Linked DNA regions of Homo sapiens: regions 1, 2, 3, 4, 5 and 7 are each linked to region 6. The links come from fine-mapping of genetic effects on gene expression. A gene starts in region 6. Each other region holds a variant in brackets. All regions are shown on one strand. Distances are from middle to middle.

Region 1 (4,450 bases), 57 kb before region 6:
ATCAAGCACATAGAGTGATGCACGTGTCTGAGGGCAGAGTCCTCAAAGAACCCCCAAAAGAGAAAGCCAGCTTTGGCACATCTGCCATGCAGGGGTCAGTAACACCAGGTTACAACAGCACCCATTGAGTCAAACCTATTTACCCCCTTACCTGTCCTCTCCCTGCCAACCTCCTCTAACCCTGGAGGAGCCAAAAGGGTGCACAGTGAGTGAGAGAAGAAAAGTGGAGGAGCCACATGGAGGCGTTGTGAAGATACGGAGGAGACCACCCCCTTCCCCACTCCTGGTCTGTGGAGGGCGGGGGAGAGACTCCAGAGAGATCAAAGTTTTCATTGTTATCACACTGGACTTCTTAATACTTTGCCTGAAAAGAAAACCTTTTAACATCTGAAAGGGACTGGAAATCTAGGAGAGATGCCTAAGCTGTCAGCCAGAGGCAGAGCAGTGAGATCTGACAGAAGATACCTAATGATCAAAGTGAAGAAAAATGAAGGTGCTTCTCGTCTGCATCCCACAGAGTCCAGCTCATTACCAAACCTGTCATATCTAGGATCCTGGGGACCCACTGGGAGGAGAAGTTGTTAACGTGCATGGATTTCAAGTAAATGCCACCCGAGAAAATTTCAATCGAGGTTTACATTGCTACATTTCACTATTAAAATTACAGCACGGGGCCACGGGCATCAAATGTGGGTGTTTCGCAGTTTCTATCGATGACAATCAAAATTATTTTCCCAGATCAGTGATTTATTCCTTTGAGGGAAAAACACCTGATTACTTATTTTTTATAGTTAGAATTCTATTGTAATAATTTTCCATGTTATTAATATTTCATATTCTTTTGAGTGCAGCATTTAATGACATTTTAAGCATACCATATAAAAAGATATTTAGGTTACTGACAGTTTTTCTCACTTATAAATAATGAAGCAAGTAGATAGAACTTTTTCAAATGTTTTCAAGCTTTTTTTGTTATATTCTAAGAACCAATTGAACTTCTTAAAGCCTCATAATTATTTCCTTTTGAATTCACGATAATTCATTGTATAATTGGTTTTTATTAATTACAACTTAAAGTCATTTTTTTGCCCTGTGAATTTCAAGGTCATACTGGTTAGAAAAGACAGTTTTAGTCCAACGCTGATCACTTTTTAAAAAAATCATGAGCTCATAAATTAACAATTCATGGTTTTAGCAATAAATTATTTCACCTTGAATGACTCGTGTTTATGTTCAAACAATGCTAGTTCATTTTGCTCCTTAAATTTGTACTATATATGCTACATTAGGAGTAAATTGAACCAGGTGCTGTGACTTGCACCTGTAATTTCAGCTACTTAGGGGGTTGAGGCACAATGATTTCTTGAGGCCAGAAGTTTGAGACCAGCCTGGGCAACATAGTGTGATCCCTATCTCTAAAAAAACTTAAAATAAATTTTGAAAAATTAGCTGGGTGTGGTGGCAAGCACCTGTAGTCCCAGCTAGTTGGGAGGTTGAGGCAGGAGGATCTCTTGAGTCCAGGAGTTCAAGACTGCACTGAGCTATGAGCTCTGATGGTACCACTGCACTGCACAGCAGCCTGGACAACAGAGCAAGACCTTGTCTCTTAACAAAAAGTGTTAAAGGCAATTGGAGATAGGGTCTCACTCTGTCACCCAGGCTGGAGTGCAGTGGCACAATCATGGCTCACTGCAGCCTCAACCTCCTGGGCTCAAGTGATGCTCCCATCTCAGCCTCCTAAGTAGCTGGGACTACAGGCACACACCACCATGCCTAGCTAATTAAAATTTTTTTTTGTACAAATGGAGTCTTGCTATGTTGCCCAGGCTGGTCTTGAACTTCTGGCCTCAAGCAATCCTCCCATTTGGGCCTCCCAAAGTGCTAAAACTCTTTGTCGATTCCAAATTCTTGCTTGGTAGAAGAGCTATTTTGTTATTGTTTTTAGCTTGTGAAATTTTCTTATAACATGCTTATATTACCAGAGTCAGAGGTGTTTTAAGAATTCACAGTAATTTTAATTCATTGGTAAGACATTTTGGTGGAAATAAAGTAGTTTATACTAAATATCAGAAAGTATGAGTGGTGAAGTTATCATTTATTAAAATTCTCTAATATTTAATAATAATGTTAAGTACATTATATGAGCAGAATGAAACATGTTCCAAAATATTTTGCTTGTAAGTGTAGTTTTATAAAATAAATAGGTTTCCATTTTCAGAGAAGAGAAAGAGAACAGCAGAAATAATAAA[C/A]AATGACTGGTTTAACCCAATGGTACTAACCCAACGTTTAGTATTTAACCCAATGTAAATACTAAACAATGTCCACGCATAAGGCTAACGTTTAAGGACCTGTGCTTGGCTTTGTTATTTTTAATATATATGGGATAACATGGAGAAAGGTAGTATAATTTTAAAGTTTAATTTGAATTTTGGCAATATGTCTTTCAGCAAAGAAAACTGGACTCTTTTTCCCCCAGTTGCCTTTGGCAATAAACCTCACAGTGACTGATCTTCATGACCTCATCCTGGAATTTGGCTTGAGTGACCAGTTTTAATCAACCTGAAAATAATGCCTCTTTGTCTATTGGAAAACAAATGGCGACAGATTGCCTCTTTCTGCTATAACCATAGCTCATCTGACTAGCTTTGCCCATGAAAGTCTTAGAAAAGTATGAGATACAATTTGAGGAGTTAGTTGTGTGTGAAAATCTTAATGAACTCAGTCACCTTGTAATTTAATGGCTAAGAAGCAGCTGTCTGAACAGATTAGCCATTAAATCTCAGATGTAGGGTTGTTTGACCTTAATTTGCATATTTTGAAAACCAGATTTTGCAGACTGTAGTTGGCTTCTGAGTCGAGCAAGGAGTGTGAGCACTGCCTCTGCTCTGTTCAGTTACAAGGCTATGAAGCCAAATTTGAGCCAGCCACTAGCAGACAAACAAAAGGTGGCACTGCTTTCCTTTGTTTTTTTTTTATAGTTTTAGTACATTAAAACTGCTGTATATGATTAGCATTAGTTAACTAGCCACTTTTGTTCCCGAGAAACTAAATCAACATTCACCTGGGGATACCTGTACTGGGTAGGCCTGTGATGGGCAATAAGAAAAGTCACTTATGTTGTTCTCTCAGGAAACTCTGAGCAGGTAAAAGGTTGGCAGAGGCTACCGGTGCACTTCCAATATTAGTGATGGAGTCCTGCTCAGAATACACACCATGCTTCTCAGGCTTTCCTGCAACCGGGCGAAGCACAGTTCTGGCCCATGAGATATTTGCAGAAATGATGTGTGTAACTTCTGGAATGTACCATGATGAGGAATGGACATACCCCACCACCACCACCACCCCACCCCACTTCCCCTTCCCTATTACTTAGCAGCTGCAATCTATACCTGGTGGTAAGTGGTAATGAGTGACCCTCAACCACTCCAATGAGCACAATGCCTTAGAGATAGGTGAGTAACAATATAGAAGGGTCCTGAGTCCCTCACACCACAGACCCATTATTCCAGTTCTGTAATGCTTATGCTTGGGCAGTCACATAACAGAAAAACAAACTCTTGTTTTATTGAAGTCACAGGTACTTTGGGTCTTGGTCTTAATAGCAGAATCTACTTCTTAATTAATTAATTGTGTATAATGACAACTGAGATGAGTGGTTAAAGTCCTAAAGCATTCAGATTCAAACTTCAGAAAATGATGTGCAGAAAAAAACAAAATCAAACCAACAATATATCTTAGGGTGGATTGAACTAATTTGCCATTGTGCCCCCCAACCCCAGCCCCCATTTTCAGCTTCTTTTCTTTTCTTTTTTTTTTCTTTTTTTTTTTTTTTAAGACAGAGTCTCCCTCTGATGCCCAGGCTGGAGTGCAGTGGCACAACCTCAGCTGACTGCAACCTCCACCTCCTGGGTTCAAGCGATTCTTCTGCCTCAGCCTCCCAAGTAGCTGGCACTATACGCGTCCGTCCGCCACCATGCCCGGCTAATTTTTGTATTTTTAGTAGAGACAGAGTTTCACCATATTGGCTGGGCTGGTCTCAAACTTCTGACCTTGTGATCCGCCTGCCTTGGCCTCCCAAAGTGCTGGGATTACAGGCGTGAGCCACCACACCCAGCCTTTCAGCCTCTTTTCTAAAGCTTGCACTCAAGAGTCACTGGAAAGCTGCCACATACCACATACGCAGTCCTCTCTGTTTCAGTTTGTTCGAAGCATCTGTGTCACACAGCTCAGTAAAGGTGACCTTGCCGGTCAGTCTTTTACAAGATCTAGACCTGGGGTTGGGGATGGGAGCACATAGTTCAGGTTCTTCTTTATGACTAGTTAATTAATTGTGAAAACGGTGAGTTGGAAACTCAGGTCCAAGATTTATGAGGTGCCAAAAAAAAAAAAAAAAAGTGGGCGGCGGGGGGATTTGAGGATGAATTGGAGAGAAAGTGCCCCTGGAGGAGAT
Region 2 (4,450 bases), 910 kb after region 6:
TTTTTGTTGTTGTTATTTCTGTTAAAGCTTAAGGGTGGAATAAGTCAATTTGAGAGTAAAATCTGAATTCCATCTGTTTCTGTAGTTCTAGGACCTGGTATATAATAGATGCTTGATAAATATTTAATAGTAGTCCTTCTTGAGAAATGGTGTTTCATTATGGTAAAGGAAGTTTTAGTTATTCAGAAGCTCTAGGATTGGCGTAAATGGGCATACTTTAGATATCTTGAGGTCTTCCATAAGTGAGAATGGTAGCTTATTGTCTATACATTTTTCCATTTTTTATTCACTGTGTTCCTACTGAGTGCTAGACGTAAGGAGAATTAATATTGAACAAGCCAGATTTCCTACCCCCCAAAGATTTTACAGTTAAACGGGAGAAGATAACAAGTGAATAATTACAGTACAGAGTTGCTGTCAGAAAATATTGGAGGGGGAACTAACCCAGGTTCAGGGGAATCCAGGAAAGATAAGTGGAAATTAGGTAATGAAAATATGCCACATTATAAAAGGGCCTGTAAGCTATAGTAAGGAGCTTGAACTTTATACTGATCAGTATGAATTACTAAGTCAAGTACCTTAAAGTTGCAGATTCTCATCTCTTCTAGGTAGCTAGCTTTCTAGGTAACTTTCCGTGCACTGGATTTGCCCAGTGATAATGTTTGCTTATGATAATAATAACTTTCTGTTTCACCTTTGATTTCTATCAAAAAGTTTTGCATAAATACTCTTATCTGCCAACCACAGGAACCTAGCAGGTGACCTTTGGGTTTAAAGAATATGTTTAATCATAGTGATCCCTGTAATAGATAAATTAAATCTCTTTTACAAGCCTTCTGCAAGAACTTCTGCTTGTTTGTGGCATACTCTTGAATAAAGTTATTGAACTGGCTATCAAGTTGACAGCCTCTTGAATGGAAATTAGGTATATTCTTGACTGAGAGACTTTTTGAATGAGCTCATCAACTTTTCATCCGTGGATTGGATCTATACTTATTATATATTTTGCATCACTTACATAGATCCTAAAAGTTATATTGAATTTTCTTTGTATACTTTCCCATGTTTCTACATAATTTTAGTATTTATAAATTTTAATGGCTTATATGCTCTAATTAGTGGTATTTAAATATTGGCTACAACCTTAATTTATTTCTGTCACTTTAATTTTTAGATCAGTTAGTTCTGATCTCTGGCTAGACAACAGAATAATTAGTGAGACTATTTTAAAGGACCTACATTTCTGAGGCCCATTCCAGAACAAAGCCACTGAATTAGACTATTTGGCACTGGGCCCTAAAATCTAACACCTAAAAGCAGCGACAACTAGTACAAAGCATAAAAAGGTGATTCTGATGTGTGCATCCATAGTTGACAACTGCAGCCTTATTCCCATAGAGGGTGATTTCATTTAGATTAGGAGATTTCATTTAGATGTTTTCTTGACCTCCTTTCCAGCAATTTGATGGTTCTGTAATGGGCAACTTTACCCCTAAAACTCTTTTCTTCTTTAGCCTTTTACTGAAGATGGGAGGAATAGAGATAGAATAGTGAAAAGTAGGAATTATGCTAAGAAATTGGTGCCCTGGCACCAAAAGAAGACAAAGACCAAGTAATTCTTGTTTTGAGACAATAACATATCAACAAAATAAGGGCCTACTATGTGCCAGGCAGTGTTCTAGGTGGTGGAGTTATAGTGGTGAATAAGAAAAGGACCTCTATGCTATTAGTTAGGAATGAGGTGGTCAAAGAGTAGAATCATACACCTATAAATAAGTTATTATATTGTCAGATAATGATAAGCACTATGAAGAAAATAACGATGTAATAGTAACTTAAGAAGGCTTTATGAAGGATAGGAGGTTTAAACTGAAATTGGCATTACATTGTTATTAGTGATGCTAAGATTTGGGATCTAGCCGTATCAAAGACCACAAGTCAGCGATAAGCTAGCCTGTTTGAGGGACAGAAAGAAAACCAGTGTAGAATACTGTAGACAATGAGGTATGATGGTGTTAAAAGGAACCTATTCTTATTAAGGGCAATTCCAAGCCTTTTGACTTGAGAACTTGGGCTCAATTGCCATTTTAATAGTAAATTGTTAAAATGAGGAATACTGTGACAAATTGAGGGAAGCCAGGGGAGGCAAGAGATTCCCTTTAGGCTTGAAGCTTTAAGTAGGCTTCTGGATCTGGGATTTTTGAGCTCATTGAAACAAAGAGGACTGGAGGTAAATGTTTGAGAGTTAACAGCATATCTATATATGAGATACAATTGCTTCCCCTTCCTCCTGTCTTCTCTTCTACTTTCTGTATGAGTGATTTTAATTGTAAAAAATATGTAATTCTCACCTCTGGCTATGGGTTATTCATCTTGGGAGCAA[T/C]TAGAAAAAAACTATGCCCGGGTCCTACTCTCAGAGATTATGATTAGTTGATTTGGGGTGAGGGTAGCTATCTTTTATAGCTCTGGTAGGTTATTATATTGTGAAACCAGATTCGAGACCCACTGGCCTATTGCCTCAAACTGTGGTATTTGCTGATGCTAATCTTGGTCTCCATAACAGAGAGAAGTAATGGAAGGCCTGTCTGATGTTGCTTCTTTTGCAACTAAACTTAAAAACACTCTCATCCAGTACCATAGCATTGAAGAAGATAAGTGGCGAGTTGCTAAGAAAACGGTAAATTAGTTCAATTACTTATATTTGGGGTATATCTTCTATCTAATGAATTGGTTGATGACTTTTAAAATTAAATGGAACAATATGGACAAAGACCATACTTTGGATGGATATGCAAGAAAAATAATTGAGCTAATAAAGTTGATAGTCTAATGTCACACAGAGGAAGAAATGCATCAGTGGTAATCCTATACTGCTTTCATTAGCTCTTTGGATATTAGACAAGAGAATAGGCTCATGGCAACTAGAACCTAAAGAATGGCCTCTTAAGTCAGCAAATAAAATGTATCATTATTAATTTAAGAAAGTGTAGTACTTGAGAGTTTGGAATAGTTTCAGGTATATCAAAAAGCCTATGAAGGTAGCTAGTTAGTATTCCTTTTTACTAATGTGACTTGCCCAAACTATTACATAGGTGACTTGAGTGTTGCTAGAACTAATTCTAGAACCCAGGACACTTCTAGTTAAGTGCTCTAGCTATTCTGATATTCAGAATTACTTGGGAAATGATGAGGAAAAAATGTAGGGACAAATTCATGTTAACACTGTCGTAATAAATGTGAATTGTTTAATTTTTTAAAAGTTATGAACAATGTCAGAATGAAATAGTGTTCCTAGTGTTAGAGTCTGAATGCATCAGTAATGGTAAATAGATAAGATTGGACTAAGATAGTGCCATCATTGAATCTTACAGTGTTTGGATATCATTAAATACTACTGAAAATATTCTTTGGAGGTCTGTAATTTAAGTACAATGTGAAGAACTTTAGGATACAGAAGAAATTCAAATACAAATCCTTTTATGGTATAGATGACTTTTATGTATTCTGAAAATGTACTGGTTTTATTTTAATGCAAAGACAAATTCTATAGACTTATAAAATTATCAGTTTTGTGTCTAGGGTTCCACCTATGCAATTATTACCATATAATGTTTTTATTTTTCTAGAAAGATGTAACTGTTTGGAGAAAACCCTCAGAAGAATTTAATGGATATCTGTAAGTAACTTTTTATAGACTTACACAGCTCTTAAGACATTTCAAAACTTATATCCATTGTCACTAAGTAGTCATTGCTAGTAAGATTTAGCTTTTTAAGAGTTCTTTAACTTTTTTTTTTTTTTTTTTTTTTTTTGAGACAGAGTCTCACTCTGTCACCCAGGCTGGAGTGCGGTGGCACAATCTCGGCTCGCTGCAACCTCTGCCTCCCGGGTTCAAGCGATTCTTCTGCCTCAGCCTCCCGAGTAGCTCGGATTACAGGCACCTGCCACTGTGCCTGGCTAACTTTTTTTGTAGTTTTTAGTACAGATGGGGTTTCACCATCTTGGCTAGGCTGGTCTTGAGCTCCTGACATCCCGCCTTGGTTTCCCAAATTGCTGGGATTGCAGGCATGAGCCACCACACCTGGCGATTTTTTTTTAACTTTCCGGAAAGCAAATTGGGCTTATGAATTCAGAGCCTTAAAAATGTCCGTGTCCTTTGTAGACTGAGTTGGTGGTGAGGAGGTCATAAATAATGATATAAAATGACTGCTAAAATCTGAATTTCTTAGCATTGTATACATGACCCTTCTAATATTCTACATTTACTCAGTGCTGTAGAACATTTTATCTTAGGAACTTATCTTGAAGAATTTATCAGAAAGATAACAGTGATTTAAGTACTTGCTCTTCTATCACAGCATTATTTATAATATTAAAAATTATAAACCTGAATAATCAATAGGAGGAGACAATTCAGTAGGAAACATTTGTGATAGAATATGCTATAGCC
Region 3 (4,450 bases), 140 kb after region 6:
CTGTCAAAAGGGAAACCTTCATGATGCAGGAAAGAGAACAGAAGGTTGCTGGAACCATGTTCCTGAATAGATGAGAAAGGGATGAGCCTAAGTGGAACATGGACAGTTCCTCCACAGCAACAGGAGAGAAGGCAGAACACAAGCTCAGATGCAAGCAGGTTGGTCGACGGGGCCAGGATGCATACGCATTTCTCTTATGATTGTTTCCATTTTCAGTGAAGTAATGAAGATCTTCAGCTGAGAGTGAGGAAGGGAAAGGAGTTGTTGGAAGTTTAAGGACAGAGGAGAAAGTGTCAAGAATTATTAAGGAGAATGACGGAATAAAATGTAGGATTCTGCGTGATACCAAGGGTTCCCTTGGGTTATTGCTAATGAATGTAAAGCAAGCCCACCTATGGTTGTGCAATGTGAGCCTCCAGTTATGTTCAGCTCCTTGGGTGCTAGCATGGAGAATGCGGGGAATTGGAGTTACCCATGGGTGTTTTTTTTTCCTGTAGATATTATGGAAGCAAGGATGTGCAAGGAAATTGAGGACACTTGCAAGTGAATGATTATAATGAATAGTGAGGGAAATGACATTGGTTGGGGGCATCAGCGAGGGACAATGAAAAGGTAGTAGGGTCAATGAATTGGGTGTCTTGGTGGAGTCAGAATATTAAAGTGAGTTGGGAGAAGAGTATTAGTTGAGAGTAAGAATCTTGAAATTTAAGTTGTGCATTACTTCTCAGACAATATTTTAGAAAGTAGCTTGGCCCGAGTGTAAGATGGAATGGCTTCAGTTCGTTGGAGCTGCTGTTCTGTACTTTTGGGCAAGTTGTTTACTCAGTGTTTCAGTTTCCTCATTTATAAAATGGTAATTATAATAGTTCTTCCTAGAGTTATTAAGAGGATTAAAAGAGTAAACACATGTAGAGTCCTCAACAGTGCCTGTCACATTGCAAACATTTAATAAATGCTAGCTGTTATTATTGCATTTCTGTAACCTTAGAGTGGTGTCAGGGTCCATGGATGAGAAATGAGGAATATTCCCAGGGCCAGTGACACTTTATGAGAAGCCACATGGTCCATCAGAGATTTCTTGAAATTCACTTTTGCTGAAAAACGGGGCCAGTTGTAATTATCTCTCCCTCCCTGTAGATCACTCCAGTGACAGGCCCTTGTTTTTGTCGCCACTGCAAGATAGCTCTATTATGGTGGTTTTACTTGAGGTCCTAAGGCTTCTGTGACTCATATGAAGGAGCAAATTAAAGCCATGTCCTCTTGATGTTGCTTAGAGGGCCATAGATCTGTTTACAGGGTCAGTGGGAAAAGCACAAATAGCCATAACCTAAGTCCTGGATTCCTTGAAACATATATGTGAATTATGTTGAGTCCTAGAACTCCCCAGGAGTGACCTGTTATATCACTTTTGAGATCTTTGTGGCTCTGTTGTCAATGGTACATGACCAACTCTGTTTTTACTCTCTTAGATCAAGAGGTTGTTTTGCTATATTAATGAAAACTGTGTGTGCTTTTAAGTCCTTTTATTTGGCCTACAGGAAACTTTATTAAATGTCAATGTAACATTCTTAAGTTCTCCAAAAGAGAGTCAGCATTGGACTCTGGGTGAAATAAGATGCAGCAAACTCTCATTATTTCATGGTGTCCTTTCTTTTTAAAAATTTTTTAGGGTTTATTCTACTATTAGAACTCTAGGAGACTCTGAAAGAACAGTTGACAAATGAAAGGTTGGACCCCGAATTTAATATATATCTTTTGAAGATTAGGATATTGATTGGCTGGGCACTATTAGAGTTTCAGAACCTAATTCTGAGACTGTTACCAAGGAAATTGATGAAATTGAGAAGTTATCAGCCAAGGTGGATGAAAGCAGCCAAGGGCATTTAGCCAGGACTGTCAGAGAGTAAGAAGGGTCTGTCATTGCTCTCCGGGTTACATCAGTGCTGTGATTAAGATTGACAGGCCTGAAGTGGTAAGGCTGTCTAACTGCTTTACCTCTTCTACTCTGGCAAAGGGGCAGAGTCCGAGAGGACTGTCACC[C/A]TGACTCCTCAGTGATGGAGTGTTTAGGATACAGTATGTTAGGAGTGGACTGTGCGACATCAGAGAGCAGGGTCTGTTTGGGTTCATTGTTACCTTCCTACAAAATGGGATCTCATCCAGCTTGTCAGCATATACAGACTGCATAGTATACATTTGAAATAGGAGAGAGAGGGGAGTGGGGAAGGGGAAAGTGTTTGAGTGATTATCCTAGAGAATGGACAGCTTGAATGTTGAGAGGGAATGAGAGATAGGGCTATTTCTCCTCGTGACCATCTGGCTATGCAAGAGGCAGCACACCAGGGTACAATTCAGAGAAACCATTCTCTGAATCAACATTGGACCCAGTGTGAAATAAGATGCAGCACAGCTCCAATTATTGCATGCTGTCCTTTATTTAAAAAAATTTAGGGTTTATTCTATTAGAACTCTAGGAGACTCCAAAAGAACAGTCTCTTAGGGCACCACACTGCATGATTCTCAGCTCTCTGCTCCTCTTTCCCCTCACGTGGGGCAGGTGGAAAGACTGAATGGACTACTTCCCTTTCTGGAAGTTCTCCATGAATATTGATTGCTTAGCTGAGTATTTGTTAGCTGTTAGGCAACACTGACTTCAATAGGGTGTTCAATTGTAAAGGACTTAGAGTATTACATTCTGTGTTATTACATGGAAATTTACTCACTTGCTTTAAGAGCAGTTGAGCTGATAGACATGTACTTTATACAGATTTAAGGCTCTGTTATCTCCCATTTATGTATTTTGAGAAAGTTTTTTTGAACATGCTATTTAACGATTTTTTTAGTAAAGCCATTGTATACTCACCCTGCAGTTAATTTTCCTTGTACATGATTTTATTATCTCATATGTATTCATCTTATATAAGTAATTATTGTCTCACCACATTGTATTGTAATTACATGGCTGTGTGTCTCCTGCTGGGCTGTGAGTGCGAGGTTAGTCACGGGTCTCATTCAACTTTGTGTTCCCATACTAAGGACAGTGTCTGACATGTCATGTAAAGAACATGTATAGTGGATATCCATAAGTGATGAATGAATGAATGATATCCCAGTTTTAGAGTCTACCTCTAGAATATTGGCACTCCATGACCAGTATTCTGGATGTATTCCTTAAAACAGGGATATTGTGTTCATTGGCAATTTTTTGTGCCCTTTTTTCTCTTAAACTATAGAGTAACAGGCTGCTGTGTTTCACTCTGATCTTCCATGTGCTCTGTTTGATTGCTTGTTGATAATGAATGGTGACAAGTGCCATCATAGCATGGCTGCTTTGGTTCCAAGGTCACATCTTTCCCTTGGTTGAACGTAAGTGGGTTTTACATTTCAAGATCTTGGCTTCTGAAACCTGGTGACTTGTGTTTATTATTTATGTTCTTGGGCATTTATCATTGTCTGACCTCTGTAACCCCTGGTTTCCATTTTGATCAAATGAGATTTGTGTGTGGCCGGCTCTAGGGTGATGCTTAGCATAGCAAATGTGCAGTGAGTTGATTGAATAGCCTTTGACTGAGTCTTGCTGCTGCTGCTTCGTGCTGCAGAATTGTAATTTCTAACTTTTCTTGAAACTGTTATTTTACTTTTTTCACCTCTCAAATTTAATCACTCTCAAGGAAAGAGATTTATTTTAAAATAGAACAGATTATCATTAATGTAAAATTTTTGATAGATTAACCAGTTTTTCCCATTATATGTAGTTAAAATTTTTTCTTCCTATTTTCTTTAGCTGGCTTTAGTGACTGAAAAGCATTCTGGAGACAAGGAAACAAAGACAAAACAAAACAAAATGAATCAAAAAATCTGAAAAAAAATTACAAAGGTTGTCTTTTGGGATGATGATGATGATAGGAGGAGAAATTTAAAACTCTGATTTCTGCCCCTTACTAGTTTCAGAACAAGATTAGACAGACAGTAATAAGACCAAAGCCTCCTTTTTTCCCTTCTTGCCACAAGCACATATTGACACTTCATGTGTAAGTGTAGCGTAGGGCGTGAAATTAAATCCCAATGTTACATGTGCCTTGACACCTGGAGAAACTGGGAGAGCCTCTAATAACGCATCCATAAGCCCTCTCCCTTACTGTGCTCTAGGGAATACGGTCCCCTAACCAACCAGCTCTCCAAGACCCCAGCAGGCTGACATCTTGATTTTAGCCTTGTGAAATTTGAAGCAAAGAAAGACACTAACTTTCAGCACTCTGAGATAATAAACAGGTGTTGTTTTAGCCTCTAAGCTTGTGGTAATTTGTTACGGCAGCAGTGGAAACCGAATGCAAGTGTTAATGAGTATTTGCGTTTGTTTTCCTTGGTTTTCTCTTCATTGGAAAATTCAGGGGATAGTAAAACCTTTTTGTTTAACATGAATGGCAAGAAACAGTCCCCTCACCTCATGTTT
Region 4 (4,450 bases), 130 kb before region 6:
TCCACTGCTTTCTATCGAACTTAGAATACAATTCATCTCCTTCCTTGGCCAACCAGTCCTTATGTGGTCTGAACCCGGATGGTCTTCCAGCCTCATTTTATCCCACCTTTCCCTCCCCTCTCCATGCTCTGGCTACACTGGCTTCTTTCTATTCTGAAACACCCAAAGCTTGTCCTTACCCAGGGCTGCTGCACTTGCTCTTCGCTCTGCCTGGACCACTCTTCCCCCAGCCCTTGGTCTGGCTGGCTCCTTCTCATCTGGGCTTCAGGTCACATGCCAGCTTCTCTAAGGCCTTTCCTGGCACTGTTCTCTTCCCCTCATGCCCTATTTCTATTCCATTACGGTGTTATTTTTCATTGAAATTATTACCTAAAATTATTTTCGTTTACTTGGTTAGTATCTGTCTCCTCTACTTCAGTGCAAGCTCCACAAAAGCAAGGACCTTGTCTCTTGTTCACCAGAGAATCCCCGCTGCCTGAAATAAACGTTTAATCAATGAATGTCCACACCCAGAGCGGGAGGGAATTCTAACAGTTGTGAGGCTGCTGATGTTCCTTCCAGTGAATGCTATGAAAAACTCAAGTCTATATACATTTAATCCTCCCCTAATTTGGATCTGCTTTTAAGAATGGCCTTTGGCCGTTTGTAACATCTGGATGCCAATATTAAAATAAAACTGGTGAAGAAGAAGGCTGAGATTTGATGGTTCCATGTATTTCCTTAAATATTATGGTTCTGTAAAATGGCTTTGATTGGTGACACAAAAGGCAAGGTTGCCCCCTAGTGTTTAGATGTGTAGATCTGTGTCACCAGCAATACCTTTTAAAAAACTGTGTGTATAGAAAGCCACACTTCCACAGCCTGCTGTAATATAGACCAGAATTTACCAAGGAAGCACAATTTCCCACAAAGTATCTCCTAAGAGACTCCAAATGGATACTTTCCATTCTCATGGGCTTCTGCCAAAAGTTGAGCTACTGTCTTTGTTAGCTACTAAAGAAATCTGAAACAACCAAGAGAGCTGTCTAGCTGAGTTTCACCAGATAGCACATTCTCCAGACTGTTTTCTTAAATGTCACCTTCCTTTCCCAGGCAAAGTAGGCTGATTATAAAGTAAGTAAAATCAATGTTAAAGAAAATAGCAACCCACCATCTCAACTGTTTTCCCCTTGGCCACAGAGGAATTTATCCTTAAAGTTCAGGAAGACATAAACCATTCAGAATCTTAAGTGGATGCAACCAAGCACAAGATTTCCCTGCACTGAAAAATCTTGGTAGTTTTAGGTGAGTATTTTTCATTCCTGAGCCATGCTGAAGACTGGTGAGACAAAGGAAAGCTGTAAAAAGTGGCTGGATGAGGGTGGCACCAGGGGAAACCATTTAATAAAGAGCCTGGGTTATTGGCTCCTACAGTATCACTCTGGGAAACTAGGTTATTAGAAATGATGGAAAATGGGTGGTGAGGTGAGCTGGTGGCTGGGAATAACCATGGCAACCAAACTATCCATTTTCTTATTTCGCTTTCCTTGAGACTAGAAATAGATCAAGTGTAGGTCACTGCAAACAAGTCCAGTGATGGTTTACATCTCCTGCAACAGCTTTTGCTGGCCTTTTTTGTGAGCATGTGAAGAAATGCTACCCTACTTTTGAAAAAATGTCATATATCTCTTGTCCCGACCACCTAGTTTGTGTTCTGTATATTGTGTGAATATGGTGTTCTATTTTTACTTTAAAATATGTTTTTTAAGAGTAAATAAGAAATAGTTGTGGAATTACAAAGCCAGAAGTAGAATGCTTTTTGGAGACCACCTACTCAATGCAGGAATTTTTTTTTGTCATGCTGAGAGATGGGCTCTATTTTAATCTCTTCAGTGACAAGGAACTCACTACTTCATGATATAACAATTGCATTGTTAAATTGTTGGAAATTCTTTATTATTTTTATTTATTCACACAGCTGATATTTATTTAGCACCTACTCTATGCCAGG[T/C]ACTGTGCTGGGCACTTTGGATCTAGTGGTTAACAATATGAACTCTGAACATGAAGTCCCTGAACATAAAGAAGTTATAGTCTTCTCCTTGTAACTTTCAGGTGAATATGTGCAATTGAAACTAATGAACAGTATTTTCATGGTACTGCTACTGTTTCAGCAACAATAGTTTTAGTCTTTTGTTTCTCTGATCAAGAATCACATTTTAAGGAGAGAGTATCCGATTGGCTTGAGTCCCATGCCCAGCCCTTGGCTGGAGGTGGCAGCAGCACTTCTTGATGTCCCTCCAGAATGTATCCCATGTGTCCAACCAGAGAACAGGCAGTTTTTGTTAAAAGTACACACAGGGTCATCCTAGGTTTTTCCTGGGGTTTAATGTCAAGACTAAATATCTCTATATCTATTTTCTAAAGGCAAAAATATTTAACTATCTCAGTGTTCCAGAAGCTCCTCATGTTTTCTTGGAGATTACTACAGTATCTCCAATCATGTCTGCAGGCTACTTGAGTGTTTTGGAAGATAATTCACTTGGACCCTGTGTCATATATTCTCTTAAAGCTGCAGGTGCACTCGCTCTTGCATTTACATGACCTACCTTGTTTCCACCCAGTCTAATTTGAATACCAGTATCATTGCTAGAAGAGGTCAGAGAACAATGTAAAAGATCTGCCTTCATCTTGCAGAACTGTGCAGTGTTTAAAAGAACAAGGGCTTTGGAATGAGAAATACCCGGGTTTAAGTCCTATTCCTGTGTTGTACTGGTTGTGTGGCCTTGGTCCAGTTACTCATCTGTTCTATGTGTCTGTTTTCTCATCTGAAAAATGGATATAATCTCATAGGGTTTATGGAAGATCAACTGTACAGTCAAGAGACAGAAATCACACTGATTATTTGAACAGGGAGATTTCATGTAAAGATTTTTTAATCAAGTACTCAAGAAATGAAAAGGCAGAAAGGAAACACTGAGAAGGCAGAAATCGTAGAAGCAGTTACTGCTCTAGAACTGGGTGAATACATGAAAGAGTTTGGAGTTGTTAAAGTTTAGAAGCTTGAAGGAGGTGGTGCCCCGCAGAGCTGAAACTGAAACCTCTGAGACCGGGTTGAGGGTCATTGCATTGTACTATTGCCTCAGGATTTTGAAGGTGGCCCCTGGTAGGGAATAGGTAGGACCGTGACCTTCAAGGAGAGGTGCTAACTGGTTGGTGCTGGGGTCTCTAGGGGGTATGATGATGCTGGTTCTAAGGGGAGTGATGATGCTAGTTTATCATGCCCCAGTATTTAGGGGTAATGCAAATATCAATTCCTGAATAAATGTTGGAATGAATTCCTAAGTGTCTGAGACCTCAGTGGTTGTCTCTTGTTTTAATTGCTGGAATTTTCCATTAACTTTATTACTCATGGAAGTACTAAGATACATCCCAGAAAATCCCCAGCATCTGAGACATGGTCCTCCCTACTTTCATTTTGCAGTAGCAACTGTTAACTTAAAAATCACAAGATGTATAAATTTAGAACGGGAGAAGAGACTATTTCATCTAAAGTGTTACAGCCTATAAGATGGCCATCCTTCAGACTGGGAAGTACAGCCTCTGGCTGGAGCCCAGAAACAGGCACTTGGAAGGAGGAGGGGTTGGGGTATAAGTTTTATACTGAACAGGTTGACTAAACATACATATTCAACAGGTTACAGGAGGAGCTGTGAATATTCATGAAGGTGGCCCTGATGCATACGTCTTGAACAAACATGCAAGTAATATAAAACCCATGTTCACTTTGGGGTGGAGATGCAACATTTAAGTGTATTATAATGAGGCCCTGTACTTCAAAAGATCTTTTCAAGACATGAAGGGATGCAAGTGCATAATCTTTGTAAACTGGCCAGAACCAGTCCAGGGTTGGTGGTTTTCTTATCTGGGGAAAGTTATTGAAGTCAGTCTCTTGTCCAGTGAAAACTGTAGTTATGGCTGGTGGAACAGTCCAGTGAGTCAGCGTCTGTGAGCTGGATGAGTTGTGACTGTTTTAATCGTGCTTATCTTGAGGCCAGTGCTTGTTTAGTTGCTGGAGAAAAAGAAAAATTTTGTGGCAGTTAGAACATAGATTATTCTTCAAGTGTAGGGATGCGTGACTTAACTCTTGCCTGACATGGCCTTAGGTCCTTTTTATATGTTGGTATCTTATTGTCACCAAGAGTCTGTTGTGTTAAACTTATGATCTTTATTTTAACATTTAGGCTGGTCACTTGTTCTGTCTAAGCCATAAAAGGAGGTCTAATGAGGTAGTCTGACCTGCTGTCCCATGATGGTCAGGAACTCAGTTTTAAGCTTTTTCTGGGGTCCCCTCAGCTACAAGAGAGTCTGTTCTCAGTAGAGAGGCCAGGGTTGGCGGGGGCAGGGTAGGATTTTATTTTTAGTTTACACAACACAATTTGTTCTTGGTATTCAGGATCAATCATCCCAGCCA
Region 5 (4,450 bases), 82 kb before region 6:
GCCCGGAGAGGAGGAATCTAGAGAGGCAGTCTAGCTACATCAGCTTTACTGAGTTGCAGTGGGCTCCGCCCAGTTTGAACTTCCTGGTGGCTTTGTTTACACTGTGATGGGAAAACTGGCTACTCAAGTCTCAGTAATGGTGGACACCCCTCCCCCAACTAAGCTCAAGCATCTCAGGTCAACTTCAGACTGCTGTGCTGGCAGCAAGAATTTCAAGTCAACAGATCTTAGCTTGCTGGGCTCTGTCGGGGTGGGATCCGCTGAGCTAGACCACTTGGCTCAATGGCTTCAGCCCCTTTCAGGGGAGTGAACGGTTCTGTCTTGCTGGTGTTCCAGGCGCCACTGTGGTGTGAAAAAAAAAACTCTTGCAGCTAGCTTCGTGTCTGCCCAAATGACCACCGAGTTTTGTGCTTGAAATCCAGGGCCCTGGTGATGTAGGCATCCAAGGGAATCTCCTGGTCTGCAGTTGAGAAGACTGTGGGAAAAGCGTAGTATCTGGGCTGGAGTCCACTGTTCCTCATGGCACAGTCCCTCATGGCTTCCCTTGGCTAGGGGAGGGAGCTCCCCGACCCCTTGTGCTTCCCGCGTGAGGTGATGCCCCTCCCTCCTTTGGCTTGCCCTCTGTGGGCTGCACCCGCTGTCTAACCAGTTCCAGTGAGATGAACCAGGTACCTCTGTTGGAAATGCAGAAATTACCTGCCTTCTTTATTGATCTCACTGGGAGTTGTAGACTGGAGCTGCTCGTATTTGGCCATCTTGCCAGCAATCTCCCAGGTGTACCCTTTTTAAATCTTTTATTCCAAATTTTAACTGCACCTTTTCTATATTTGAACATGTTTAGATATACTGATTATCATGCATGTCCGTGTGAAGAGACCACCAAACAGGCTTTGTGTGAGCAACAAGGCTTTTTATTTCACTGGAGTGCAGGTGGGCTGAGTGTGAAAAGAGAGTCAGCAAAGGGAGATGGGGTGGGGCCGTTTTATAGAATTTGGGTAAGTAGTGGAAAATTATAGTCAAAGGGGGTTGTTCTCTTGTAGGCAGGGGTGGGGGTCACAAGGTGCTCAGTGGGGGAGCTTCTGAGCCAGGAGAAGGAATTTCACAAGGTTAATTGCTCAGTTAAGGTGGAGCAGAAACAAATCACAATGGTGGAATGTCATCAGTTAAGGCAGGAACTGGCCATTTTCACTTCTTTTGTGATTCTTCAGTTACTTTGGGCCATCTGGATGTATAAGTGCAGGTCACAGGCAATATGATGGCTTAGCTTAGGCTCAGAACCCTGACATGGATATTTACCATTTTGTTACAATTGCCTACAGTATTCAGTAATGTAACATGCTATACAGTTTGTAGCCTAGGAACAATAGGCTATACCATGTAGCTTAGGTGTGTAGTAGACTGTCCCATCTAGGTTAGTATAAGTACACTCTGATGTTCCTATGGTGGTGAAATTGCCTAGCGATGCATTTCTCAGAATGTGTCCCCACTGTTAAGTGATGCATGACTGTATAACTATATAATAGAATATTACTTAGCTATAAAAAGGAATGAAATACTAATACATGATACAACATGAATGAACTTTGAAAATATTATTCTAAAAGAATTAAACCAGACACAAAAATGCCATATATTGTATAATTACATTCATATGAAATGTCCAAAATAGGCAAATCCATAAGAGACAGAAAACAAATTGGTGGGAGAGATGGGGGAGAAAAGAATGGGGCATGAATTCTAGGTATGGCATTTTTTGGGGGGATGATGAAATGTTCTGATAGTGGTGATGGCGGCACAACTTTATAAACATAGGAACGACCTCTACATTTTATACTTTAAAAGGGTAAATTTTGTCATTTGCGAATCATATCTCCATAAATGTAAAATAAAATAAGCTGCAGACTAGAGCACACTGAAATATCTTACTATTAATATAAAAAAAATTTGGTTTTTAAATATGACCCTATGAAAGGGAAGAGCAGTAAAGTGAGAAGAAAAAAATAGCATTCAGTGAGTATCTCCTATGTGTCAGGTATTATGCTGGGTGCTGAAGGTGTAGAGGAAATAATTTGTAGCCCATGCCCTTAAGGGGCTCAATCTAGAAAGTGTGAAAAGGATGAATGATGATACAAATCAAGAAATGCTGTCAAAGAAGGCACTGTTAAGTGAATGAAAAGACAAGACACAATCTAGAAGAAATATTACAAATGATGTACCTGATAAAGAACTTAAATGCAGGATAGATAAAGAACTCTCAAAATTCAAAAATAAGAAAACAAACAACCCAATTTAAAAATGGGCAAAAGATTTGAACACATACTTCAACAAAGAAGATATACAGATGGTAAATAAGCCCATAAAAAGAGGTTAACTTTGTTAGCTCACTGAGGAAATGCAAATTAAAAGCAATGTGATACCACTACAAACCTGTTAGAGTGGCTAAAATTAAAAAGACTGGCTATGGTAGACTGAAGAATGGCTCCTGCCCAAAGATAGCCAAGTCCTAATTCATAGATTCTGACTATTATCTTATATGCCCCCCTCTCCCCAAAAAAATAGGAGGGGAAGGTCTTTGGAGATGTGATTAAGTGTGAGATTACCTGGATGGACCTGAAATGCTACCATAATGTTGTAAGAAAAACTGGGTTCTTGTCACACAACCAGGAAAGAATAGGGACACAGACACTTTGAGGGGTGAGGTGTTATGTAATTTATTGGGCAAAAAGGAAAAAGACTCTCAACAAAGCGATAGGAGTTCCTATTAA[T/C]AGGGCCCCATCTCATAGACTAAATTCCAGGTTACCACACAGGAACAGCAGGGGCCAGAGTCCTCCCCATTGCAAATGGCAGGAACTTCCCAAAGCCCCACTCTGTCCTCCCAGTGCACAGGTCAGTGGGAGATTCTCCAGGGTTAGCAGTCTGGTTTTTCAGCCTTCAGGCTGTTTTAGACTTGAAGGCAGGGTTTTGCCAGGGAATCCTTGGCTGCCTCCTGTCTATATCAACAAGTGTTTTCAAGAGAGAGGAAGAGGCAGATTTCACCTGCAGAAGAGGCAACGTGACTACAGAAGCCGAGATTGGAGTGATGCAGCCACAAACCAAGGAATATGGCAACCACCAGAAGTCAGAAGAGCCAAGGAACAGATTCTCCCTTAGAACTGCCAGAGGGAGTGTGGCCCCACTCATGCTTTGATTTCAGATACTGATTTTGGACCTCAGGTCTCTAGAACTGTGAGAGAATATATTTCTATTCTTTTAAGCCACCAAATTGATGGTAGTTTGTTACACCATCCATAGGAGCTAACACATGGATCACCCCAAATGTTAGCAAGAAGGTGAAGGAATTGGTACTCTCATATCCTGCTGACAGAAATACAAAATAAAGTGGTATGACCACTTGGGAAAATAAGGGTAGTTTCTTAAAAAGTTAAACATAATATCTATCAGATGATTCAGCCATCTCAATCCTACACATTTACCCAAGGAAAATGAAAGAATATGTTCATAAAAAGACTTGTACATGAATATTCACAGCATATAGTTAAACTGGAAATATTTTTCAAGGGGTGAATGCAAAACCAAATAGTCATATATCCATAAAATGGATTACTGCTAAAAAATATGAAGAAATGAACTATCAATATATAGTACAATGTGGATGAGTCTCAAAATAATTATGCTTAGTGAAATAAGCCAGGAAAAAAGAGTACATTACTGTATAATTCCATTTATCTAAAATCCTAGAAAATGCAAACTAATCTATAGTGACATAAAGAAGATCACTGGTGGCCTGTGCAGGAATGTGGGGCTAAGGAGCAGGAGGTGATGATGAATATGTTTGTGATCATGATTACCGTGATGGTTTCACAGGTCTATACATATGTCACACAAATTGAATATGTATACATATTGAATCCTGTAGTTTAAATATGTGTAATTTATTGGACATTGATTATGTATCAATACAACTATTAAAAAATAAGTGCTGTCTAAAAGCCATGCCAGGAAGCTATGGCAACATGGTAGTGTCCTCAGGAAACCTGATGGGACAGAGGTCTGGGACTTGATTCTTTAGCCCAGTTGTCTTGCCACTCTCATTCTAGAAAGGGAGACTGGCTTAAACCAGAGTGTGAGGAAACAGGATCATGCTCATAGCACTGGTCTGATAGTTTTAGTCATCCTGGGGTACTTTTATTCCACTTACTTACTGGCCTTTTAAAGTAAGTTCCAGGCATCCACCAGTATTTGCAGAGAAGTGATCTAGAGAGAAAAACAGCACAGGTAATTTGATGCCCAAGCTGGAGTGATATAAGCACAAAACTATAAGGTAGGGGCAGGTAGTTTGGAGGCCACAGGGTACAGCAGTAGAGAAGGTAGAGGAAGGTCTAAATGGCCCAGAAGCCATCTCCCTCTCCATGGGAGTTGGTCTGTCCTCTCCTTGATAGGATGGGACAGG
Region 6 (4,450 bases):
CATGAGGTCAGGAGTTTGAGACCAGCCTCGCCAGCATGGTGGAACCTTGTCTCTACTAAAAATACAGGGCATGGTGGCGCACTCCTGTAGTCCCAGCTACTTGGGAGGCTGAGGCAGGAGAATTGCTCCAACCCGGCAGGTGGAGGTTGTAGTGAGCCGAGATCGCGCCACTGCACTCTGATAGAGCGCGACTCTGTCTCAAAAAAAAAAAAAAAAAAAAGAAAGATGACAAAGTGCAGGAGGAAACCTTAGGGAGGGATGAATATGTGTACTAGCTTGATTATGGTGGTGGGTTCATGGGTGCACACTTATGTCAAAACTTATCAAATTGTACACTTAAAAATTATGCAGTGAACTGTATGTAAATTATATGCAATAAAGCTATCCTTAGAAACTCTGTGGAATCCTCTTGTCACTAGTAATCTCTAATTTTGTGTTAAATAGATTTTAAATGTTCTTTTCTCCAGTCTCCGATAAAGAAATGGAAAAGAAAATGCTTCACTCAGGAAAGAGTGTCATATGTATGGGACCTTATGGCTTTGTAACTTACCTTATGAGGAGCTGGGAACAGAATCCCTGCCCATCCAAAACCCTCAGCCTTCTCACTGCCACTGGAGGTAAAAAAACAAAAACAAACAACAGCAAAACCAAAAATCAGAAAGCAAAAAAACCAAATCAAAGGGCCAAAAAACAGGTGAGAGCAAAACTCAAAAAAACTGGGAACAGATGATTGCTTGAACCTTTTGTTTTTGCAGCCTCAAGTGTCTCGGTTGGATATGGAGGTAAAGAATGAAAATGTTAAGCCATCTTTCAATCACATTTGGTAACTCCTGTCAGGAATACTGTATTACAGAAAAGAAAAGCCTCTACAAGCAGAAATGCTAAAATCTAGCATAATAAGGTGTCACCTCATAAGGCAGGCAAGACTTTGACAATAAAACAAAGCTGGACACGAAATTTGATCAGAAATTCAAAACCTGAGTCAATTTCACAGAAAATTCAGAAGATAAAATAGTTTTATTCATAGCCTAGGTAAAGTTCAGAAATTTATATTGCACTTTGGCGGTTATGCTGATCCTGTGTTTGGATGGGGTCACAATAGCAGGGAAGGCCGAGGCTTCCTACAGAAGGTCCTTTGTGGCAAATCACTATGAGAGGAAACTCCATCAAAAGTCGCCAATTGTTCATTTCATTTCTACTGTGCTACGGAAGCCTGGTTTTGTTTTAAGGGCTAACGTCCTAGGTTTTAAGCAATTTTTTTTGAGCTTTGGCTACCCAGCTAACAAGCAGTAGAATAGTCAACTCAAAACTACGTCTGATGCCAAAGCTCTAACTCTAAAACTCAATATAGAGTTTTTTTTCTGTGACACCTCCCCTCGTGTCTCCCCTAACTGCGACTCGCATTAACTCGCTGCTGGTTCCCAGCTGGAGAGCACAGATTGCACCTGCTCCGAAGCCCAGCGGGGCTCAGTGTCGTCCGCAGCTCAACCTCGGCTGCCTGTGCACGGACATCGGGACCCACCAGGGGTCACTGCAGCTTCAGAGCTATTGTGCCCCTCAGTCCTGGACGCGGCCGACCGCGCGGAGGGCGTGGGATTGGGACCGCCGAACCGTGGGGTCCGAGCAGCACCGCGTCCTCTTCTCCCCACCCAGCCTCCAGGTCTCTCGGGGGAAGGACGCAGCGAGCGCTGGACTGCCCCGCGGCTTGGGCGCAGTGTGCGGCTTGGCAGCGTGGACTCGCCGGCACCTCGCCGCTGGGACCACGGTCTCTGCCCCGCCCTCCGCCCCCAGCTGATACCCCGCCCAGAAGGGGCTCCCCTGCCGCGGCCAGCGCTGGACTGGGGGGTCCGCTTCGTTCCAGGGCTTTTTGCAGACGCCTGGACCGGGCCCACATGCACCTGGGCTGCTCCCGCCCGGGGCGCCACCACTCGCGCGGCCAAGAGAACTTTCCCCGGAGCCTCTGCGGCCTGGCGCGCCCAGGGCGCACCCCCCGCTCGCCCGTCCGCCGCGTTCCCAGCTGGGGCGTCGCTCCTCCGCCCGCAGGTCCCCGCCTCCCCGCTTTGCTGAATGTCCTGAAGAAGCCGTATTCCGCCGCCGCGGCAGGCATTCCCGGAGGGAGAGCTTGAACTTGGCTACACACGGCCACCCGTAATGAGCTCGGGAGTCCCCGGACGGGAGCCACACCCCGCGACGAGCTGACCTCCCCTCGCTGGTCTGGGTAAGGAGCCTGCTGCCCTTTCCGCCTCTCTTCCGGCTCCTCGGCGCTTGCGGCTGGGGGACGGGGTAGCGGACGGAGCGACGACCTTCGCCTCTGCCCCTGCGCCCATGGTCGGGGCGTCGTGGGTGCTCCTCACACAAAAGAAAAGCCGAGCGCTTCATACTCGGCGGATCTGACCCGGGGCTGCGGGGCGGGGTCGCGGCTGGAAGTGCGCGCCCGCGGGGGACTCCGCAGGCCGATCGGACGCCAGGACGTCGGGGCCGCGCTCAAATCCGTGCGGCAGGAGGGAGGTGCAGCGCTTCCAGGGTTTTCCAAGGCCGGGGAGAGCCTCGAATTCCCATCACTCCTTTTTCTGGTCTCTTGCCCCCAGTGCCAGGAGACTTTTGTCGTCCCCAGGACTGCGGGAGGGGCCCCGCGCCCCCGCCTTCGGAGGAGCTCGAGCCGCAGGATGCGCGGGGACGCGCCACCGCCCTCCGCGCCCAGTTCCGCCGGCGCTTCCCCGGCGGCTCCCGGGCGCTGACTCTCCCGGGCTTTTCCGCCTTTCTCGCTCCCGCCCCGCCGGGCGGTTCGGCGGCCGGTCCCCGGACCCCGCCGGGAGCTGCTCGTCTCACCCTCGCCACGGCGCGGACAATAAATTAATGCATCGCGCTTGAGTGGAGGGGGCGGCTGGGCGCCTCGGTGGTAGCTTTCTCTCCTGGCTGGAGACGACCACAACCGACATGGGCTGTTTCTGCGCTGTTCCGGAAGAATTTTACTGCGAAGTTTTGCTCCTGGATGAATCCAAGTTAACCCTTACCACCCAGCAGCAGGGCATCAAGGTGGGTGCGGCCCGGAGCGCGTTCCGGGGGTTGGCGGCAGGGCGGGTGCGGGGGTCCATCGCTTTGAGGGCTGTCACCGGTGGGTCGAGGGCGGCGGCCGCGACTCTGCGCGGTGGGGAGGAGAGGCCGCTGTCCCCTGCGCGCAGGGAGAGGGTGGACGTACCAGGGTGAGTTAACTTTGAGTTCCTTCATAAAGCAAAGTTGAGTTTGACGTTTCTAAGTTTACTCAGCACACCGGCTCCCAGCAGCACCCCAAAACTCTTCCCCAAACCGGTTTTCTCCAAAAGCCTCTGGGTGCCCCGCAGCTCTCAAAGAGGGGCAGAATGGGTTATACCAGCTGCGTCCCACCAGTGTGGAAGGCATGGTTTCCCTCGACTTTGTTGAAGGCGTTTTCCTTGACAGTGTTATTAGGGAAGTGAACTAGTTCACTCGTTGAAACGCATTAATGGGTCATTGTGATTGTTTTGCGTGGGTTCGTAGTTGGGTAATGCTACGTTTGGACGGAAAATATTTTCCCTTTCTACAGCGACCTGGGTTTATCCTCACATTTAAGTAAACATCTCTCAAAGCGACCCAGTAATAACTTTGCTCCTGTTTGTGGGTCATTAAAATGCAATCACTACATTAACCTAGAGAGCCCAAACAAAAAGGCAGCAGAGCTCGCAGAGATCCTCTTCCTTACATTGGATGAGAAGGTACGTATGTTTGTAGTGACAACCTGACCGACGCGCCTGCGTGCTTGTTTTGCTTTTGCAACAGTGTTAACTACCTAAAGGAGATCTAAATCCGGAGCGTTTTGTTGTTTTGTTTATCTTTCTCTTTCAGTTTTAGATCGCTAAGGCATTTTAGATAAGGCAACAGCTGAGTCTGGTGAAGGGAAACCGCCCCCCCGCCCCCGCTCTGATAGAGCTGGCTTTCTGAGAAATCGAGTTCAGGCTGCCAAGTATCCTCTCTTAGTCGCTTCATCTCAGAAGTTAATCATAATGGGGTAGGCCCTGGGCATTTCCTTTTGTGAATCAGTTTTTACATAGTTTTATGCACACTAGGATAACTATTCCTGGCTAAAAGTTTCAGCGTTAATGTTGCCATTCTTAGTGTACAGAATTCCAGTTTCATAGGTGTAATTCTTTTGCGGGAGAAAGGAGCAAAAATAATCAGTTAAAGCTACAAGATTGTTAACCCTTTCCTTTAGGAGGTTGTTTTGAATATTGTTTCCCCAGTAATTATACTGAGCAAAATTCAGTTCGATTCTCATTCGGTATTTCCTTTCAAGACCAATAAAATAGACTCTTTTCGGGGAGGGTGTACATTTTGTATTTTTAACTTTTCTTTATGTTCCAAAATATTTCTCCTCTCACCCGCCCAATGAAATCAGGAAAATATTGTAACTTACAAGATGATGTAACATTCTTTG
Region 7 (4,450 bases), 290 kb after region 6:
GGTCAAGCCTGGAAGTGACAAGGATAAAGCATAGAATAGGTAGACGGTGAGGAAGGCACTAACTTCTGGGAGTCTGAATCTTGGTGTAAAGTTGTTTGTCCAGTAGTCCTAGGCCCTTCACTCTTCTGGAGTATTCACAGAGGACCTGAGACTTTTGAGGGTAGCTAACCAGAAGACACACTATTTAGATGAAGAGTTTTACCTAAGTACAATAAGAAGTTTCCAACGATTATTCATGAAGTAAGAGTGTGTTGTGCCTTGCTCTCTTTTATTGTCTCTCTTGTTTCCTGCTTAGGGTAATTATTATTTTTAAAAATAATTTAATTTTTTAATTTTTAATTTTTATAGGTACATAGTAGGTGTATATATTTCTGGGGTACATGATGTATTTTGGTACAGGCATACAATGTGTAATAATCACATCAGGGTATAGGGTAATTATTTGAAGACTGTGTAGAACAAGAGTAAAATTAGTTTCCCTAAAAGATCACTGGAGTTTTCTCCTATGCTTTTTGCATCACAAGTGAGATTAACTGGAAAATGACAGAATTGAAGATGTGTTTCACTTGTTTTAAGCAAAGGCCAGCTTTAATATAATGCATTTGTGGGTCCTTCATTCTGAAAATAATTATGAGCTGATTTATGTATTACAGAATCTAATTGTTGCTTTAAAGCATTAAATTATTCCTACAGAGCTCCTGAAAAAAATTGTGAAAGATATAAAAACAAGAATATTTAACATTTTATATATTATCAGATGGCTATTAGTATTTTAGCAAGTCCTATATTGTTATTGGATTTAGAAATATATGTTATTATTGTTTTGAAATTGGCAGTAACTTAGACTGAAGCATTTTATTAGAAAAATCAAGAATGAAAGTGTCTTTTCTATGAGAGCGCTGGTTAGCTTTGCATTTGTTTTGGAGATTTAATAGTTGCCATATGTTAGACCTGTTAAATGAATGATGTAATTTAGGCTGCCTGTTGTCCTGCCAACTGCTTCATGCTGCCTCCTCACTTTTAGTGAGCATTACTCCAACATGTGCATATATCACCCAGCAGTAGCTTCTTATACAATCCTGTTAGTCCTTGGGTTCTTAACCCCATCCATCATCTATATAGGCTCTATCTCCTTCCCTCCAGAACCTCGGCTAATGAAAAACAATGGTAGATCTTGGCAAAGAGTGTGCTTGGAGGATAATAATCAACCTAATATTCTGGCTAATGGATAGAAAACCAATGATAAGGTTGATGCTTTAGGACAAAATCACAATGGATGATTAAGAGAATTCAAATTTCTCTACAACATGAATGACAGATAAATGATTTTTTTTGTATGAAACATTAGATGGTACATTTCTTTATTTTTGTGAGCAGGATGATACAATAAGAATGACTACAGCAAAAATAAAACTCATATGTTGTGTGCCCCTTGCTTGTGCCACCTCTAATGACTCTTACCTAAGAAGATGAAAAGTTCCACCTGAATATCTCAGATATTTATGTAGCTATAACCTATATATATATATTTTCCACTTTATAAATGAGGAAGCAGAGGGCCAGAATTAATCAATGACTTGTTCCAGGTTGTCATTTATATCAGTGTTAATGATAAGGGAATTGCTACGTATTTCATTTTTTAAAAAATTATGTTAGGAAAAATCTATTATCAATGATTCAATAAATCGAATTGAAATGGATTTGTCAGCCTAGGTTTCACAGTGTTACAATCATCTACAATTTTTACCATCATTTTCCAAAGAGTAAGTCAGTTAGTGAGACTTTTTCAGCATTATAAGGAGATCCTAGGATTTGCCACTGAGAAACTTCAAAGATCTTAAAATGTCTTACATATTTAAATGTTAGGACTACTTATTTTAACTCAATGCCCTTATATACTTTCAATATGGCAGATTTCTTTTTCTACTTTATATTTACAAGTTCTCTTATTTTTTTTTCCTTTATGCCTAGGGTCAGAGAGATAATTTTCTTTAATTTACACCTTTTACATGGTTCAGCAGGACCTAAAATTAATCCTTTCCTTTATGGGGAGTGCATAACAGTTGTACTCTTATGTAACCTGTTGGCTCCCACGTGTCATCTTAATGAACTTCCCCATTTCCTACTGTTTTACAATCTGTGTTTTTGGCATCTTGAAACTTCCTGCACTCTTCTTCCTTTGGTGGGTGTATTAGTTTGCGAGGGCTGCCGTAATAAAGTCACAAACTGAGTAGATCAAACAACAGCAATTAATTTTCTCACAGTTCTGGAGGTTAGAAGTCCAAGATAAGGTACCTGTAGGGTTGATTCTTTCTGAGGGCCACGAGGGAACAATCTGTTCCGGGCCTCT[T/C]GCCTTGGCTCGTAGATGACCGTTTTTCCCTCGTATCTTTACACTGTCTTCCCTCTCTGTCAGTGTCCAAATTTCCTCTTCTTACAACACCAGTCATATTGGATTAGCGCCCAATCTAATGACCTTATTATAGCTTAATTATCCCCGAAAAGACCCTATCTCCAAATATGGTAACATTCCGAGGTACTGGGGATTAGGATTTCAATATATAAATTTTAGGGGATGGGGACACAATTCATAACAAGTAGGAAAGAAGAGCACAGAAATATTTAATGTCACATGGCATTTCTGGATTATTGAGATTTCATGCAAAAATATAAATCTTAATTATCAGGCAAGAAACATATGGATAATCAGTTACGTAGTGATCCTAGTCTTCTGATGGTCAAAATGCTAACCAGGGAGGACATATCCCCTCCTCCATGTGAAGAAAACAATGCGATCTGAGTTTGCAAATGTGTGGAGAGTGGGGATCTGAAAACAGAGGTGGGAAAACAGATCCTTCAGAGCCTTCCTTGCACACCAAGTGGTAATGAAAGTTAGATATTTTAAATCACGTAGCCATGTTTTTCATTCAGGTTATAACACATATACAAGCCGACACCCTTCCCAAAATTTCGGCATGGTAGTATATTGAATATATGCTGTTTCATGGGAACATATTTTTCTACTGTTTTGAAGCCTTCAAATGTAGGAAAAGATCTCTAAATAATTAAAAAAGATTGTACAATAATTCCAAAATTTTCAAATGGATCAGAACCTATTTCTCTGGAGGCATTATTAAACACAGAACTACATAAAGAATCAAGTATTACTGTTAATAGGGGACAGATGAGATTAGAAGTTCTGTAAATACCTTCTGACTTTTAGTGACATTGTTTCCTCCTCTGAATCAGAAAATGCGATTGTGCTAGAGATCTGAATGTTTTTCATTATTATCTAGTGAAAATGACTTAGGAGAAGGCTGGTGGGTGGTGAAATTCTAGAGATGGAAATTAGCTTGGTGGTCAATCCTGGGGATTATTGTCAGATCAAATCTAGGTCTGTCTGCTGTGATCATTGGGCTTCCAGGTTAATTCTGGGTACAATCCCAAAAGTAAGGTTTAGTTTGGGGGAGGAGAGAGTGGAAGGAAGATGCCCTCGCCTTTTTCTCCCTGATAATTGACCTGGCCCCTTAAAGTGCTGCTCTGGATTAAGGACGCCAGACCAAGATCTGTTAGGGGCTAGACCTTCTTCCTACACAGTGGTCACATTCAGAAGAGGGCAAATGAAGGGAAATGGGGGAACCAATACCTCCACTCAACTGTGTCTAGTAAAGGTTCTCGAAAAGGCTTGTATGTCACATTCAAGCTTAACATGCTCCTTTTGAAAGCACACATTTCTGTGTGCTGCCCATTTTGCTTCAATTAGTCATGGATAAGGAGGATTACATTATATTGGAGTGTTTTTAGCAGGGTTTTAGCAGGAGTTTCTTACATTAATCTGCTTGCAGTTCTTTAGAGTCACACTTTTGAGTCACACTTAAATTAGGGTGAGTCTACCCTAGAAACAATGGGGATTACTCTCAGGTGGTGGTGTTTTTTTGTTGTCGTTGTTCCTAAGCAGAAATTTCTGGAGCTATTATAAAGAACAGTGCTCACTAATATGCTTAAGTCTAGAAATTGCTGTTTCATTAATAAGTAGAAACTGGACAGCTTATCCCTTTTCTCAGAAAGTATTAGTGATTTCCTGTGGGAGGCAAGAAGTAGGAGAAAAACGCTTCCTACGCTCTTCCCTAGTTTGTATGTTATTTTCTGTGGCCTAAAGAGACATGCTTCCTCTTCTCTTTTCCAAATTTATCACTTTCTCTCTTATATTCAATCGCAGCACACCCACGGGGACTAATTCTCACCTCTGTGATTTTTGTTGTACATTTCATCATTTCTACAATTCTTCCAAATTGTAGAAATAATCTGGGGGGACTCCAAAAAGTGAATGTATATGTATTCTTAGAGCTGTCATCTCACTTGCTTTTAAGTTACAACACCAAGCGGAATTTTAGTCAACCTTCCTAAGTCAGTTAAATACAAAGTTTGGATGTAGTCCAAGGCTTATAGTTTC

Which allele goes with the higher level. Alleles are on the strand shown, and positions count from the first base shown. SD is a standard deviation of normalised expression in the study named. Not every link is listed here.
In carriers of allele A in region 1, the expression in substantia nigra of the gene that starts at base 2,700 in region 6 tends to be lower than with C alone (moderate effect, 0.41 SD a copy in GTEx).
For the expression in tibial artery of the gene that starts at base 2,700 in region 6, allele C in region 3 goes with a lower level than allele A (small effect, 0.36 SD a copy in GTEx).
With allele T in place of C in region 7, the expression in adrenal gland of the gene that starts at base 2,700 in region 6 is higher (moderate effect, 0.60 SD a copy in GTEx).

The links.
Region 1: its variant is fine-mapped to the expression of EPB41L4A in substantia nigra (GTEx, PIP above 0.99). The same link has a PIP of 0.9 or more in spinal cord.
Region 2: its variant is fine-mapped to the expression of EPB41L4A in spleen (GTEx, PIP 0.99).
Region 3: its variant is fine-mapped to the expression of EPB41L4A in tibial artery (GTEx, PIP above 0.99).
Region 4: its variant is fine-mapped to the expression of EPB41L4A in whole blood (TOPMed, PIP above 0.99).
Region 5: its variant is fine-mapped to the expression of EPB41L4A in whole blood (INTERVAL, PIP above 0.99).
Region 7: its variant is fine-mapped to the expression of EPB41L4A in adrenal gland (GTEx, PIP above 0.99). The same link has a PIP of 0.9 or more in atrial appendage.

What each region holds. Positions count from the first base shown.
Region 1 is chr5:112,474,348-112,478,797 of GRCh38, reverse strand. No RefSeq gene overlaps it. Among named protein-coding and RNA genes, the nearest start is that of EPB41L4A-DT, 57 kb to the right of the region's middle. The variant C/A (reference allele first, on the strand shown) is at 2,250.
Region 2 is chr5:111,505,556-111,510,005 of GRCh38, reverse strand. STARD4 (StAR related lipid transfer domain containing 4) reads left to right here. Exons shown (of 6, transcript NM_139164.3): 2 at 2,564-2,677; 3 at 3,627-3,676. The coding sequence starts at 2,573. Among named protein-coding and RNA genes, the nearest start is that of STARD4-AS1, 4.4 kb to the left of the region's middle. RefSeq lists an enhancer at 703-822. The variant T/C (reference allele first, on the strand shown) is at 2,384.
Region 3 is chr5:112,282,299-112,286,748 of GRCh38, reverse strand. All of the region lies in intron 2 of EPB41L4A (erythrocyte membrane protein band 4.1 like 4A), which reads left to right. Among named protein-coding and RNA genes, the nearest start is that of SNORA13, 120 kb to the right of the region's middle. The variant C/A (reference allele first, on the strand shown) is at 2,041.
Region 4 is chr5:112,547,950-112,552,399 of GRCh38, reverse strand. No RefSeq gene overlaps it. Among named protein-coding and RNA genes, the nearest start is that of LINC02200, 78 kb to the left of the region's middle. The variant T/C (reference allele first, on the strand shown) is at 1,991.
Region 5 is chr5:112,499,610-112,504,059 of GRCh38, reverse strand. No RefSeq gene overlaps it. Among named protein-coding and RNA genes, the nearest start is that of EPB41L4A-DT, 82 kb to the right of the region's middle. RefSeq lists an enhancer at 1-440. The variant T/C (reference allele first, on the strand shown) is at 2,766.
Region 6 is chr5:112,417,527-112,421,976 of GRCh38, reverse strand. EPB41L4A (erythrocyte membrane protein band 4.1 like 4A) reads left to right here and starts at 2,700. Exons shown (of 23, transcript NM_022140.5): 1 at 2,700-3,036. The coding sequence starts at 2,938. It overlaps EPB41L4A-DT (EPB41L4A divergent transcript), which reads right to left and starts at 2,394. Exons shown (of 1, transcript NR_027706.1): 1 at 999-2,394. RefSeq lists a silencer at 1,946-2,035.
Region 7 is chr5:112,122,660-112,127,109 of GRCh38, reverse strand. No RefSeq gene overlaps it. Among named protein-coding and RNA genes, the nearest start is that of EPB41L4A-AS1, 36 kb to the left of the region's middle. The variant T/C (reference allele first, on the strand shown) is at 2,351.